Linked DNA regions of Homo sapiens: region 1 is linked to region 2. The links come from fine-mapping of genetic effects on gene expression. A gene starts in region 2. The other region holds a variant in brackets. All regions are shown on one strand. Distances are between the middles of the regions.

Region 1 (8,329 bases), 26 kb before region 2:
AAAGAGGAGGAGGAAAGAAGGGGAAGGGGAAGGAGGAGGAGGAGGGAAGAAGGGGAAGGGGAAGAAGGAAGAAGAGGAGGAGGAGAAGGAGAAGGAGATAAGGGAAGGAGAATGAGGTGATGACAAAGATAGCCAAGATGAGGATGGCAAAGAAGAATAAAGAAGAGGGAGAGCGTAAAAAGACAACCACAAAGCAGATCATGATAATGAAGAAGAAGCAGAAAAGGAGGAGGAAAAGGAAGGGAAAATGAGAGAGAAAAAGGAGAAATACAAGAATAATGTAAGAAAAATGTGGGAGGAGGAGGGTAGGAGAAGCAGGATGGAGAGTAGCAAGAAGATGAGAATGTGGAGAAGAAGAAAAGGAGAAGGAGGCATTAGAGAAAGAAGGATATCAACTCCTGATATCAACAAAATGAACTTTTGTTCATTTGATTCACTAATGCATTCCAAAGGACCTGAATGCCTGACACAGACTTTTATGAATAAATAATCTGCGTCAAATCTGTGTACAAAATGACCCTACTTCATTTACTTCATTTAATTTAGTTCTTCTTCTTCCCTTGCTGTATCCCATCTCACTTTTTCTTTTTCTTTTATCTTTCTCTTCTGCTGAACCTTCCGTCTCATCCTGAAGGCCCCAGCATCCTTGCGTGCCCCTTCTGAGTCCTGTCTCCTCAAGAGTGGCCAGCCTGTGGCTTTTAGTCTTCATTGCACCCACCTGGTAGTCATTCAACTAACACTATCTCCAGAGTCTAAGACACAAAGGCAATCCTTAAATGTCCATGCTGGAGGGGCTGCTTGGCGGATCTGCTTGTTAGGGGGCTCTTCCAGCTACATTTACAGAGCACTTTACATAATATTGAGAAAAAATACATGGTTTGCATTAAAGAGTGGGAGGCCTTAGGAAAACAGAAGCGGGGTATGCTTGCTGCAAGGTACCACTTGGGCCTGGACTAGACACTGTGTAGACAGAAATTGCAAAGCCTCAGGGAGCAAATTTACCATCCAAGAGTGAGGTGAGACATATCATCCATGACTTGGGTAAATATCGTTTTAAATGCTTAGAGGATCCGGAATCCCTATGCACACAGTCCCAGGGGTTGTGGAAAGTAGAAAGTTTGTGCAGGGAATAGGGAGAAGAAGGAGAGATTAGGAAGAGTGTCATTTGTCCTCCAAGACTGCCCCTATGGGTTTGGTCCCATTTATAGGACAGAGAGAGGGTCTACAGGGAAAACACCAGTTGAGCTGTTTTCAGAGGCGCTTTGAGAAAAGAGGACACAAACTGGCCTGCTCAGGGCCCAGAGAGCAAAGCTGGCTCCCAGGCCCAGAACAGATGGAGGGGGAGGGAAATACAAGAGGACTCCTTCCGACAGAAAATCTCTCTGGCTTCTAGGGGATCTTAGGAGAAACTGGGCTTCTGCACAGCAAAAGCAGCCATCAATGGAGTAAACAGACAACCTGCAGAACAGGAGAAAATATTCACAAACTCAAATACTCATGAAATACTCACAAACTATCAGCAAAGGGCTAAGATCCAGAATCTATAAGGAACCTAAACAATTCAACAAGCTAAAAACAACTCCATTTAAAAATGGGCAAAGGACTTGAACAGACACGTCTCAAAAGAAGACATATATGCAGCCAACAAACGTGAAAAAATGCTCAACATCACTAATCATCAGAAATGCAGATCAAAATCACAATGAGACACTATCTCACACCAGTCAGAATGGCTATTACTAAAAAGTGAAAAAATTAACAGATGTTGGCAAATTTGTACAGAAAAAGGCAACATTTATACACCATGTGGGAGTGTATTAGTTAAGCTACCATGGAAAGCAATTCAGAGGTTTCTGAAAGAACTAAAAGTAGAACTGTCATTTGACCCAGCAATGCCATTATTGGGTACATAACCAAAGGAAAAGAAATCATTCTACCAAAAAGACACATGCACTCATATGTTTATTGCAGCACAATTCACAATAGCAAAGAAATGGAATCAACCTAGGTGCCTGTCATTGGGGGACTGGATACAGAAAATGTGGTACATATACACCATGTGTATATGTACATACAGAAATGTGGTACATATACACAACACAGCCATAAAAAAGTGACATTATGTCCTTTGCAGCAACATGGATGCAGCTGGAGACAATTATCCTAAGTGAATTAATACAGGAACAGAAAACCAAATGCTACATGTTCTCACTTATAAGTGGGAACTAAACGTTGGGCACGCATGGACATAAGGATGAGAACAAGAGACCCTGGGGACTACTGGAGCAGAGAGAAAGGGAGAGGGAGAGGGTTGAAAAACTAACTTATTGGGTACTATGCTCACTACCTGAGTGATAGGATCACTCAGATCCCAAACCTCAGTGGTGTCATGCAATAAATCCATGTAACAAACCTGCACATGTACCCCTGAATTTAAAATAAAAGTTGAGGAAAAGAAGAAAAAGAAAACTGGGAAGAGGGACTGGTGCACTGACATCCATTCCTGCAGAGGGCACCAAAGGCCAGACAATCCCATTTTTAACAAAGTTGAGATTTGGGGGTTTTCTTGTTTTTTAACCATAATCCCATCCACAAGAGGGTGGATATGCAGCTCTTTTTTTTGTTATTTGTTTGTTTTCTCTCTCTCTCCTCTCTCTCACTCTGTTGTTTTTGTTCTTTTTTTCTGCTTTTTCTTTTTTTAATGTTTTTCTTTTTTATCAATTGAGATAAAATTTACATAATATAAAATTGACCATTTTAAAGCATACCATTTGGTGGCATTAAGTACATTCCCAATGTTTTGCAACCACCACCTCTATCTAATTCCAAAATATTTTCATCACCCTAAATAAAACCCCCAAAATATTAAACAGTTATTCCTCATCTCCATTTCCACCTCCCCCATCTCCTCAGCCCCAACAACCACAGTTTTCTTTCTGTCCCTGTATTTACCTGTCTGATCATTTCATATGAATGGAATTGTGCAGTGTGTGACCTCCTGTCTTCTTCTTGCCTTTGAACTTTAAACATTGTACCTGAGGTGGGTTGAGCTGAATGTGTCTGCAGGAGCCCCGACTGCCCACATGAGAGACTCTGGGCCACACATGGGCTCATGCACAGAAGGACCACCGTGTCAGGTGACCTACCCATGGGCTGAAAGCCCACACCGCCAGGACACCTTTCTCTGCCATAGCTTCTCCCAGTGCTTGTGACACTCTTCATCCGACAACAGGCATCACAATCTGCTCTCAACACAGTGTGCTCTGTACATCGTAGCGGCTCACTCTAGATTGTTCAAACCTGAGTCCTTCTTCCCAAGTCATCAGGACAAGTGTGACTGGATGCAGCACAGTGGCTCATGCCAGTAACCACGGTACTTTGATAAGCCGAAGTGGGAGGA[T/C]TGCTTAAGCCCAGGAGTTCAAGACAAGCCTGGGCAACATAGCACGACTTTATCTCTACAAAAAATACCAAAAATTTAGCCAGGCATGATGGTGCACCTGTGGTCCCAGCTACTTGGGAGGCTGAGATGGGAGGATTGCTTGAGTCTGGGAGATCAAGGATGCAGTGAGCTGAGATCACACCACTGTACTCCAGCCTGGGTGACAGAGTGAGACCCTGTCTTTAACAACATATTAATTAATGTTTTTTTGAGGCAGAGTCTCACTCTGTCACCCAGGCTGGAGTGCAGTAGCACGATCTTGGCTCACTGCAACCTCCACCTCCCTGGTTCAAGCAATTCCCCTGCCTCAGCCTCCCAAGTAGCTGGGATTACAGGCACAGGCCACCATGCTGGGCTAATTTTTTTGTATTTTTAGTACAGATGGGTTTCCACCACGTTGGCCAGACTGGTCTTGAACTCCTGACCTCAGGCAATCTGCCTGCCTCAGCCTACCAAAGTACTGGGATTACAGGTGTGAGCCACCGCGTCTGGTCAATTATTTTTTTAAAAAGGACAAGTGAGTCGAGTTTTAGGTCACGTCATTGTCTGGTAAAAGCAGATCACAGGACGACATAATTCTTACGTGTTGACATATAAAAGGGGGAACAACCGGTTGACCAAAGAGACGCTCCCCCAAGGAGGGACATAGGAGGGACCTGGCACTTGGATTTCCTCACCGCCCGCAGGCACAGGGAGTGCTCAGCCCGTCTGCAGAGTTTGGATAAAGCTCCTCCCTCTAGGAAAGCAAGGACTCCTTTCTCACAAAAACCACCCAGGAAAAGGCCCAGACTTTTGAATCATCAAACAAGAAGGTGAGGAGGGAATAGGCCTTGCGGCTGGGTGCGAGAAATCAGCATGAAGGTTCTAAGCTGGGCCAGGGATGCTACCAGTGAGAACAGACACCCATGACCCCACAGCCACGGAGGGCAGCGAAGGGCTGGGGAAGAGGAGCCCTGAACGTCCCTCTGGGACAATACAGGAATTAGGACATTGCGACATGATCATAAACACCTTTCCTGAAGGACCTGGGCCAGCTAGGCTGGGCCTGCACGCTGCCAGATAACCACAGGCTTTATCTGCATTTGCAGCTCCTTCAGCTGGCCTGGGTCCCACCCTGAGACCCGTCTCCTCCCGGCGGGCTCTATCTCCTGCTCCCCAGCCCTGGGGTGTTCCACACTGGGGATCACACTCTTCAGGAAGCCTTTTTTTTTTTTTCTGCTGCAACTGCCAGAAAGGTACAGTTACATATTTTTGCAAAAAACAAAAGGAAGAATCTCTGGAAACTGGGGGACTTGGCGGCTTTTGCCAGATGTCTAGGTTGCCTTTCACATCACTGCTTGGAGACAGCGTGGTTGGTCTGGGTCACACCCTACCTGGAGTTGGCAGGAAACTAAATTCATTCCCCCAAAGTTGCCAGGACTTCCCAGGGAAGCTGCAGCAGCTCTCGGTGCCAGGTGAGCATTGTCTATGGTCAGGATGTGGTTTGCTCTTCAGTGTCTCTGCTTCCTCCACCCTCTCCCCATCCCCAAGGGCAGAAGGACCACAGGGCCTTCCTGCAATGCAAGAACCAAACAGGACAAGAGCCTGTGCCCACACAACTCCCTAATCACACACGTAAATGCCCAACCTGGATGGCTGTGCTGGGTAGAACCGCCCAAGGTCACAGAACTTTTTACCAACACCTGCTCTCTAAACCAAGGTTACAAGAAATGCTCACAAGAGACTCATGAGGGTCTTGGCCTGCCCATCCCAGCTGAAGAGCTCTGAGGATTGGGCCCAGCCCCCAGCCCCTGACTGTAGAAGTCCCCATGGGGACAGCAGGAAAGCAAGGGACATTAAGGGAATCCCTTGATGTCGTTCTGACCTCGAATTTGCTTAATCCGAGTCTGGGTTTTCTCCCCCAGCATTCTGGAGTTTCATGACAGTCACCAGCTAGAGACTGGGCTACAGCTCTTTATGAGCAATTAGAAAATCAAACCCCTTCCCTCCTGGATGTCCTCGTGGAATTCCGCAGACAGACTAGGGTGAGAGGTGTGTTACCCGCAAGGAGATGGGTACAGGAGCACATGAGGCTTGCTGTGTCTCCATTTATAGCATTAATAACTTGTTTGAGAGTGAGAGTAAATGACCTTTTTCTTCTTTTTCTTCCATGGCACTTTTCCTCTGCACCTGTTAGCTTCCTGGCGGTGGCTCCTCTCCCAGTGACAGTGCGTGGCTCCGGCCTGGCAGGAATGGCAGTGACATGCGATCCAGAGGCCTTCCTGTCCATCTGCTTTGTCACCTTGGTCTTCCTGCAGCTCCCACTGGCCAGCATCTGTCAAAACTGAGGGACAGACTCCTGTGCAAGTCGAGGCAGGTGCCCTGGCATAGGTGGGGGTGTGTCCAGCATGGCGGGAAGCTGAAGCATCTCCCAGCAGCTCAGGGCTCAATAGGTCCCCAAAGCTTCCAAGAAGAGGGAGGGGCAGGGGGGAAGTGCCCTGGCCTCCCAACACATGGCCTAACCCAGCCCTTTCTGATCTGCCTCCCCCAGGGAAAGCTGACTTTGATGTCACTGGGCCTCATGCCCCTATTCTGGCTATGGCTGGGGGACACGTGGAGTTACAGTGCCAGCTGTTCCCCAATATCAGTGCCGAGGACATGGAGCTGAGGTGGTACAGGTGCCAGCCCTCCCTAGCTGTGCACATGCATGAGAGAGGGATGGACATGGATGGAGAGCAAAAGTGGCAGTACAGAGGAAGGACCACCTTCATGAGTGACCACGTGGCCAGGGGCAAGGCCATGGTGAGGAGTCACAGGGTCACCACCTTTGACAACAGGACATACTGCTGCCGCTTCAAGGATGGTGTAAAGTTCGGCGAGGCCACTGTGCAGGTGCAGGTGGCAGGTAAGGCTGGTGGCTAGCTGGCTGTCAGTCTACTTCCAGGCATGGCCTTGGGGCCCAGCGTGTTCAGGTGGAGGGCTTTTCAGTAGGGTGAGAGTGCACTCTCCCAGCTGCCGTGCTGGCCTGCACTGCTCCCGGGAAGCACAGCGGTGAAGGCAGAGCCACCTTCCTCATCTTCCTTTCCCTCCTTACACCAGTGGACTGGAAAGTGAAGGGAAGGGAAAGAGAGAGATGGGGGGAATGAGAGAGACACAGAGAAGAAGAGATAGAATGAGAAAGAAGCAGGGAGAGACAGACAGAGGTGGAAAGAGAGATGGAGAGAAAGACAGAGAGATGAGAGAAAGACAGAGAGAGATGAAGAAAGAATGACAGAATTATAGAGATGGGGAAAGAGAGAGATGGAGAGGGAGGGACAGGCAGAGACAGAGAATGAAAGACAGGAGAGACAGAGATGGAGAGAGACAGAGAGAATGAGAAACTGAGAGAAACACAGAGAGAATGAAAGAGACAAAGAGACAGAGTCAGTGACAGAGAGAGGGAGATAGAGACAGAGACAGAGAGACAGTAAAAGAAAATGAGAAAGACAGTAAGCAACAGAGAGTGGGAGGAAGAGAGAGACAGAGAAATAATGACAGGAGACAGAAAGGCCAAGAGAGAGAAGAGAGTCTTCAGATACGGGAGGTTTCCCGAGTGACTCAGAACTTGTGCTTCGAAACAGACAAGCCTGGGTCCCATCTTGTGCCATGAATTCTACTTCTGCAACACAGGATGCCTATTCAATCTTCCTGGACCTTTTCCACTTTGCTTCCCTTCTTTTGTCTGGGAAATGGGGAACTCTGTTAGGGATGGTGTGTAACACAGGGTAGGCAGTTTGTGAAATTGCCAAAATACATTGGAAATCCTCAAGATTTTGTTTTTCCTTTAAATAGAAGCAGCCATGGCTGCAAAGATTCAAGCTGCTGTCTCTTCCTTCAGGGCTGGGCAGAGAGCCCAGAATCCAGGTGACAGACCAGCAGGATGGAGTCAGGGCGGAGTGCACATCAGCAGGCTGTTTCCCCAAGTCCTGGGTGGAACGGAGAGACTTCAGGGGCCAGGCTAGGCCTGCTGTGACCAATCTATCAGCCTCAGCCACCACCAGGCTCTGGGCTGTGGCATCCAGCTTGACGCTCTGGGACAGGGCTGTGGAGGGTCTCTCCTGCTCCATCTCCAGCCCCCTCCTCCCTGAAAGGAGGAAGGTGGCTGAGAGCCACCTGCCCGGTGAGTCCTCTATTCAGTTCTGTCCTCACAATCACTGAGCACAGGATTCCGTGGCCCTGGACACTGGGGACATTAAGAGACAGCTGTGGGGTTTGTGGCAAGCAGGGATGGGTGGCAGGTCCCTGTCCTCACATGGCTGGGGCATCCCAGGAGGTGCACTGTTTGGGTGCTGATTACTGAAGAGGAACAGAGATAAGGGTGCAGGGACCCTGGGGAGAGCCTTGCCTTTGGGGGAACAAGAAATGTACATCCTAATATCAACAGTTTTTAGGGTTTTTTAAAATAGGCTTTATTTTTTAAAGCAGTTTTAGGGTCACAACAAATTTTAGTAGAAAGTCCAGAGAGTTCCCATCTTCCCCTAACCCCCTCACACACCTTCCCCCAGCATAAAAACCCTACACCAGAAGGAACGTCCACCATGTTTGATGAACTTCCGTTGACAATGCCGTCAGCACCCAGAGTGCAGTTTTCATGAGGGCTCACTCTTGGCATGGTGTCCCATGGTTCTAGATAAATATATAATGCCACATATCTGTCATAGTATCATACAAAATAATGTCACTGCCCTTAATCCTCCGTGCTCCGCTCATTCATTCATCTCCCCTAACTCCTGGCCACCACTGATGTTTTCACTGTCTCCATAGTTTCCAGGTGTTCTGGAATGTCCTGTAGTTGGGACGGTGCCTCTGTAGCCCCTTCACTTTGACTTCCCTCACTTTGTGGTACGCATTTAGGTTTCCTCCATGTCTTTT
Region 2 (8,329 bases):
GCATAGTGGTGCACACCTATGGTCCCAGCAACTCGGGAGGCTGAGGTAAGACGATCGCTTGAGCCCAGGAGTTTGAGGCTGCAGTGAGCTATGACCATACCACTGCACTCCAGCCTGGGCCAACAGAGCAAGGCCTTTTTTAAAAAAAATCAAAAAACAGTGCAAGATCACCCTGACCTCCATTCTGCTTCTTAAAAGCAAATGAAATTCCCAAGTGAAAGACGCCCTCCCCATATCAAATAAAATGATTTTATCATCAAGGACGACAGGAAGTCAAGGCCGACAGAATTTGGTACAGACCTTGTGAAAACAACTCTTTCAAGCATCCCCACATCATGTAGTTGCTTTTTTACAAGTGGCTAGTCTTTGTCCAAGTCAGTATATAAGTGATTTAATTTTGCCACTTTGAGTCTTCATTTCATTATAAGGGAGCCTGTGCTGTATAAAACTTGTGTTAAATTAATATGCCTGGCTGGACACGGTGGCTCACACCTGTAATCCCAGCACTTTGGGAGGCCGAGGTGGTTGGATCACTTGAGGTCAGGAGTTCAAGACCAGCCTGGCCAACATGGTGAAACCCCATCTCCACTAAAAATACAAGATTAGCCAGGCGTGGTGGTGCACACCTGTAGTCGCAGTTACTCGGGAGGCTGAGGCAGGAGAACCACTTGAACCAAGGAGGTGGAGGATGCAGTGAGGCAAGATCGCACCACTGCACTCCAGCCTGGGCAACAGAGCAAGACTCCATCTCAAAAAAAAAAAATCCTATGTTTTTTCTCCCATTAACCCATCTCCCTTTATTTTTTTTTTTTTTTTTTTTTTGAGATAGGGCCTCACTCTGTCACCCATGTTGGAGTGCAGTGGTGCCATCACAGTTCACTGCAGCCTCAACCTCTTGGGCTTAAGTGATCCTCCCACCTCAGCCTCCCAAGTAGCTGGGACCACAGATGCAACACCATACCTGGCTAATTTATTAATTTTTGTACAGATGGTGGTCTCACTATGTTACCCAGGCTGGTCTCGAACTCCTAGCCTCAAGCAATCCTCCTACACCTCAGCCTCCCAAGTTGCTGGGATTACAGGCATGAACCACTGCACCTGACCCTGTTAGTTTAGCTTATGTCAGTTTAATTCTCCCGCCCAGCCTGGGGCCCTAAAAGGGGAGAAATAGAGTTCTTTCTCCCCTACACTGCAGTGCTCAGCTGCACAGGAAGACTGTCCCTCTCCCATCTCCCATGGCCAAGGGGACAGTAAATCCTTGAGTGGCCCTGCTAGGTCTAGAGCCTGTCAGGCACGTGACTGTCAGGGCAGGACACACACCCATCTTGCCAGCAACTGTCCCTGCTGTGCCCACACCAGAACTCCAATGGCTGAAAACCATCCCATCAGCCTTCAACAAACAGCATTCACACTTGCCACTCTTCAGCTGGTTTTCAGCCAACTCCTAACCTTGCAAACAGGAGAGCAGAGCAGGATGCTACTCTGATTTTACTCAGTCATGGATGGCTTCCACCTGGCCCTGGGCCACACAGGGCAGGTGACACCCATAGTCATGAGGGGCCAAGGCTTTTGTTGCTGAGAATGCAAATGACAGCTGGGTGTCTGCTGGCTGGCTGATGCAACACGCTGCAAACTCCTTCCTTTGGATTTAGGTGGCTTCTCTCATCCCAGCATCTAAGCCACAAACCCCCAAAACAGGACAGATTGAAAGCTCCAACCTGCTAAAATCTGTGGGCAAAACAATTCCCTTGGGGTAACACAGGGTTACTGAAAACTTGGAGGTCCCCAAAGCCTTCCAGCCTCACTTGCACTGGGCAGTGTTGACCACTCACAAGGCAAGGAGAAGTTCAGAGCAGCCCCAAGGGCAGTGTGGAGTGCCAGGGGTCTGAGTGGCATCAGGGACCCCATGTGTAACCCGTCACTGTCTGAGGGAGGCCTGCACCTCAGGCCTGTGGATAGCAGGCAAGGGCTTGGCAGCACCAGGAGCACAGAGCCCACCTCAGCCTCAAGCTGGGGTAAAAACGTGGGCCTCAGCCTCGAGATGCAGCCAGTTACCCAAGAGCTGCTGCACCTGTGAAAAGCACTCTGTCTTTCAGGTTAAAAGAAGGAGATAGGAATTTATGAAACGCAGAGAAAATGGCACACAGGTTTTTACTACACGAGGAAAAAGTCACCAAATAGAGTTTAAACGACTAAAGAGCTTTACTGGTGAGTAACCTAAAAGAATCTATGGGATGTCCCCTTGGGATATAATACTGTGGAAGGCACCCAAGGAAAGTAACGCTGCTCTGGTCTGAATGTCTGTGTCCTCCCCAAATCCCCATGCTGAAATCCTCATCCCTCAGGTGATGGCGTTAGGAGGCAGGACCCTTGGGAGGTGATGAGGTTGTGAGGGTGGAACTCTCAAGAACGGAATCAGTGTCCTTACACAAAGGCCCCAGAGACACCCTCACTTCTTCCACCATGTGAGGACACAGTGAGAAGACACCATCTATGAACCAGGAAACGCCCTCACCAGACAGGGAATCTGCCAGTTCCTTCATCTTGGACTTCTAGCCTCTAAAAAATAATGAGCAACTCTCAGATCAGAACAAGAGGACCACAGAAAATTACAGATGTGTTCTAAAAAAGAAAAAAAAAATAGCACTTTGGGAGGCCAAGGCGGGAGAACCGCTTAAGGTCAGGAGTTTGAGACCAGCCTGGGCAACACAGCAAGACCCCCACCTCTAGAAAAGCATTTTAAAATTAACCAGGTGTGGTAGCACGTGCCTATAGTCCCAGAGGCTGAGGTGGGAGGATCGCCTGAGGCCAGTTCGAGCTGCAGTGAGCTACAATCATGCCATTGCACTTCAGCCTGGGTAATGAAGTGAGACTCTGTCTCTTGGGAAAAAAAAAAGAAGTCTGATGCTGCCATCACCTACAGGTAAAATGTGAGGAGAAAAAGAGGCTTCCACTGGCTTTGGCTAGATTCTATTTGAGAAATACAAACACATCCTAAAAAAAATACCCTGAAGCTCACTTAAGTCCAGAGGCCCCTCCTCCAACCAACCAGCTGAGCAGTTCAGAGGCCTGGCCCACTTGGCCTGGTGGTCCCTTTGTCTAGAGCCCTGAGCCCACAGTCCCCTCATTCCAGGCTGCCCCAGGTCCCCCCACTTGCCTTCCACACTGCAGCTGCTGACTCTGCCTGGCCATGCAGGTCCCGGGCGTCATTCAAGTCCTTTCTCATGATTTCCACAGACCCCTTGTTCTCCTGTAAAGAAAAGAAGGTCACCAGGGGTGGGCAGAAGCTCTGGGTCCCCCAACCCAGCCCAGTACTGAGGGACATCACCCCAGCTGACTGCACACAGTCTGACCATCCCAGAGATAACCTCGAAGCCCGGTTGTCTAGGGCAGGAACGCACAGGCAGTCAAAAGGTTTCTTGGGCTTCACACCTATTCAGAAGGATCTGGGTGCTGGGGCTAAGGGGACTGTCTAGGTGGGTTTAGGAGTTCTGTGTCTGTAAGTGGCCCTGTTCAGTGTGAGTTCGGCCTGTACCAAAGGTCTGCACAGCCTGCCCTACACCCTGCCCTGCCTGAGCCGGATGGGGGTCGCTCTGCCCGGTGGCAGGACCCCCAATGCAGGAGGAGCACCCAGGGACACAGTCTGGCTGGCTTCCCCTCCCCTGTATTGAAGAGCAGGACCCCAGGCTGGCTGTTGTCTCCTATTCTGTGTCCCACAACCAACCCGCCATGGGCAAGGCTCCAGACTCCCGGACCCGCTGCTGCCAGACTCTCAGAGCGGGTTTCTGAAAGATGGGAGAGGGGACAGGGGGTGCAGGCGAGGGCTGGGTGGCCCGGGGAGCAGACGAGAAGGTGGGCCAGGCCTGTGGACACAGTGGAATACAGAGGGGCAAGAGGCGTGATGTCTCCCCCAAGGGAAGAGTGAGTGGAGGAGTCAATCTGTAGGAACTAGAGGGGGTCTATGAGGGCGAGACAGGGCACAGCTAGTGATGGGACCACAAAGATGGGCGCTGGTGGGGGAAGGACTTCGTAGAAGGTAGGGGGTGGGGAGATAAGGCACCGCCCAGCAGGGGACACCAAGACGGGGAAGGGGACCAGACTCCGAAGAGACGCAGGAAATATGGGGAGGCAAGCCGCAGGAGGGAGGGGCCCAGCACACGCTGGAGAGGGGACCCGTGGCGGTGAGGGGAGGGGGACAATCCGGGGACGGGGACAATCCGGGGACAGGAACAGTGGAGACGGGAAGGGCCCAGGGCTCAGGGGGACCGGGGCGGGGGCGGAGAGGCGCAGGGCACCGTCCGGGGTGGGGCACGGGACCCCGCGGCGCGCACCTTGCCGCGCAGCGCCTTCCTCCAGCGCGGTTCCCACTCGGGCGGCTCGGGGCCCGCAGCCATACGGCAGGCGGCGCAGAGCGGGCCGGCGTCGGCGCGGCACAGCAGCTGCAGCGCGGCCTCGCTGGCCGGGCCGTCGCGCGCGGGCGCCGCGGCCGCCTCCTCGAGCGCCAGAAGGCGGCGGCTGAGCGGGGGCCTGCCGGGCTCCACGGCGCGCTGCCAGCAGTCGTCGGCGCACTCGGGGCACGGGAAGGGCCCGTCCTCCTCGGCCCAGAAGCGCACCACGCACGCCCGACAGAAGCGGTGGCCGCAGTCGGCGCGCACCGGTTCCCGGGGCGCGCGCTGGCACAGGGCGCAGGCGGCCTCGGCGGGGCCCGCAGGGAGCGCCAGGGCTGCGGGCGGCGGGGCCGGCAAGGGCGCAGGAGCGGCTGGGGAGGGCCGGAGACCTAGACGGCCGGCGACCGGACGGAGACCAGCAACAGGACGAAGACGCCAACGCCGGGGACGCGCACGGGGCGGGGTCGGGGACGCGCACGGGGCGGGGTCCGGACCGCGGAGCGCTCTGCCGATAAGATCCTGGCAGCGGTGTGCTGCAGCCGGAGGTCCTGGCCGCGCTGCGCTCCACAGACAAGATCCTGGCAGCAGTGTACTGCATCCTTAGGTCCTGGCCGCGGTGGGCTTCTCCGCCTGGATCCTAGCGGCGGTGCGCTCCTCCGCCTTGATTTTGGCAACTATGCTCTCCACCTGCAAGGTCCTGGCAGCGGCGCACGTCACCGCGCAAGTCCTGGCAGCTGCGCGCTTCACTCTACTGCCTGCGGACCGGCCCAAGTCGTATCCTGAAATCTTACTGGGCTGTCCCTTCCTACTTCAGTAACTCCTGCGAAAGAGGGAAACAAAGTTTTATTTTTACTTGAAGGTTCCATTTTTAAAAGGTTGTTTTTGTAAGCTGCTAGGATCTGAGCTGCGCGTACCCCCGCGGTAGCTCGCCCGCGTGGGCTGGGGACGGGGCGGGAAATGGCCTGCGTGGGCCTCCTCCGCTGCTCTCATCCTGCACGGACCCGCCCTGCATGGGCACGCCCTGCGTGCACGGGCCTGCCCGCGTGGACGTGCCCTGCGTGCACCCTTCCTTCAGGGACCCGCCCTTGAACGGCCCTCCGGACGTGGACACTCGTATACGCCCACCCTGCGTGGGATCTCCCTGCGTGGACCCATCCCGCTGAGCCTCTTCTCGCGCAGCCTCCCTCTGGCCCCCTGGGAAGCTACCCTGGTTGTCCGCTGTCTCCTGGCTGGGGGGAGCTCTCATTGATTCTGTGATGATGCATGACAGAAGAGCATTTGTTAGCTTTGCTTTGCTTTTCTTTCTTTTTTGAGACAGCCTCGCTCTGTTGCCAGGCAGGCTTGAGTGCAGTGGCGCGATCTCGGCTCACTGCAACCTCCGCGTCCCGGGTTCAAGCGATTCTCCTGCCTCAGCCCCCCGAGTAGCCGGTATTGCAGGCGCCTGCCACGACGCCCGGCTAATTTTTGTATTTTTAGTACAGACGGGGTTTCACCATGTTGGCCAGGCTGGCCTCGAACTCCTGACCTCGTAATCCACCCGCCTCTGCCTCCCAAAGTGCTGGGATTACAGGCGTGAGCCACTACACCCGGCCGTTAGCTTTTCTTTAAAAAATAAATTTAAAGGAAAGAAATAAGCCTTTGGGAAGAGCAATCTTGTGTTTTTGTTTTTTAATTATTTTGAAAACAAGCAAGCATGGTTAAAATAAGATTGTGCAAGTTTTGCATTTTAAAAAATTAATCTGGGCCGGGCGCCGTGGCTCACGTCTCTAATCCCAGCACTTTGCGAGGCCGAGGCGAGCGGATCACAAGGTCAAGATATGAGACCATCCTGGCTCATGGTGAAACCCCGTCTCTACTAAAAATACACAAATTAGCCGGGCGTGGTGGCGCATGCCTGTAATCCCAGCTACTCAGGAGGCTGAGGCAGGAGAATCACTTGAACCAGGGAGTCGGAGGTTGCGGTGAGCCAAGATCGTGCCACTGCACTCTAGCCTGGCGACAGAGCGAGACTCTGTCTTAAAAAACAAAAACAAAAAAAAATTTTTATAAATCTGTATTCCAAGCAAGCGCAGGATCTAATGAGGTATTTTTGTCTTTGTGAAGATTTTTTAAATCGACTTGGAAATGCACTAGATGCCCGTGGGAAACATGAATAGTAAACCGAGGTTATTTCTGTGTAGTAAAGATTAGAGGCTTCCAGCCGAGCCTTGCTGATATTGTTGAGTCAACTAGGAACTTGCTGGAGAGAAAAGTAAAAAATATAAAAAATGAGCAAACTTCATAATGAACTAATCTTGTGAATGAGAAAATATCAAAAATTATAATTAAAGGCAAATAGCCAAATTAGGAACATTGTAACCACAAATATACAAAGAGTTTATAAAATTAGGTAAGGAAAAGCATGATGGAAAATACACCTTGTCATGGGATTTTTCAAATCACAAAAAAAAAAGCACACAAATGATTGAACACACATGAGAAAAAAATGTACACTCTGCCCAGTTAAGAAAGAGGAAAATAAAACGAGACTCTCTTTCTTTCCACTATTAAGTAAGCAGACCAAACAAAAAAAAGGAAACTTGGCCGGGAGCCGTGGCTCAGGCCTGTAAACACAGCACTTTGGGAGGCCGAGGCGGGTGAATCATCTGAGGTCAGGAGTTCAAGACCAGCCTGGCCAACATAGTGAAACCCTATCTCTACTAAAAATACAAAAATTAGGCTGGATGTGGTGGCACACGCCTGTAATCCCAGCACTTTGGGAGGCTGAGGCAGGTGGATCACAAGATCAAGAGATCGAGACCATCCTGGCCAACATGGTGAAACCCCGTCTCTACTAAAAATACAAAAATTAGTTGGGCATGGTGGTGCACGCCTGTGGTCCCAGCTACTTGAGAGGCTGAGGCAGGAGAATAGCTGGAACCGGGAGACGAAGGTTGCAGTGAGCCGAGATCATGCCACTACACTCCAACCTGGCGACAGAGCAAGACTCCCTCAGTTTCAAAAAAAAAAAAAAAATACAAAAATTAGCCAGGCATGGTGGCACGTGCCTGTAATCCCAGCTATTTGGGTGGCTGAGGCAGGAGAATCGCTTGAACCTGGGCGGTGGAGGTTGCAGTGAGCCGAGATCACACCACTGCACTCCAGCCTGGGCAACAGAGTGAAACTCCATTTCAAAAAAACAAAAAACAGAAAACAAACAAACAAAAAAAACACTTGATTCTGTGAATACTGCTTCTTGTAATCCACGTAGCAGTATCGATTAAGGATTTTCTGATTGGAATTCCTTTTCTTAGAAAACAAACTATAAAAATAACAGGAAATGAAAATAATAAAAATTGGGTTGTAAAAAATTGGGCTGTTTTGTTTTGTTTAGAAATGTGGCTGGGAGAGGTGGCTCATGCCTGTTAATCCCAGCACTTTGGGAGGCTGAGGTGAGTGGATAGCTTGAGCCCAGTAGTTCAACACCAGCCTGGGGAACATGGCAAGAACCTGTCTGTACAGAAAATTTTTAAAATTTAGCTGGGCGTGGTGGCACGCACCTGTGGACCCAACTACTTGGGAGGCTGAGGTGGGAGGATCACCCGAGCACAGGAGATTGAGCCTGTAGTGAGCCGTGATCATGCCACTGCACTCCAGCCTGGGAAATGAGAGAATTTTTTAAGACCTTGTCTTAAAAAAAAGAAAGAGAGAGAGAGAGAGAGAGAGAGGTGGGGGCGGGGGGTGGGGGAGAGAAGGAAGGAGTGGAGGGAGAGAGGAAGGAAGGAAGAAAGGGAAAAGAAAAAGAAGAAAGGAAGGAAAGAAAGAAAAGGAAGGAAGGAAGGAGAAAAAGAAGGAAGGAAAGAAAGAGAGAAAGGAAGGGAGGGAGGGAGGAAGGGAGAGGAAGAAAGAGAAGAAAGAAAGAGAAATGTATGTCATATCACTATTCATTTTGGAGAAAAAAA

The links. PIP is the estimated chance that this variant, and not a neighbour inherited with it, causes the effect.
Region 1: its variant is fine-mapped to the expression of RNF187 in NK cells (Schmiedel 2018, PIP 0.95).

Annotation. Positions count from the first base shown.
Region 1 is chr1:228,509,645-228,517,973 of GRCh38, reverse strand. LOC105373124 (a long non-coding RNA gene) reads right to left here. Exons shown (of 3, transcript XR_949233.3): 3 at 7,842-8,083. It also overlaps the pseudogene BTNL10P. Among named protein-coding and RNA genes, the nearest start is that of RNF187, 26 kb to the right of the region's middle. RefSeq lists an enhancer at 6,335-6,836. The variant T/C (reference allele first, on the strand shown) is at 3,401.
Region 2 is chr1:228,483,881-228,492,209 of GRCh38, reverse strand. RNF187 (ring finger protein 187) reads right to left here and starts at 4,828. Exons shown (of 4, transcript NM_001010858.3): 1 at 4,332-4,828; 2 at 3,158-3,250. The coding sequence starts at 4,721. RefSeq lists enhancers at 1,408-1,702, 2,654-3,381, 3,382-4,110, 4,228-5,088, 5,390-5,769 and 1 more and silencers at 4,190-4,389, 4,650-4,769.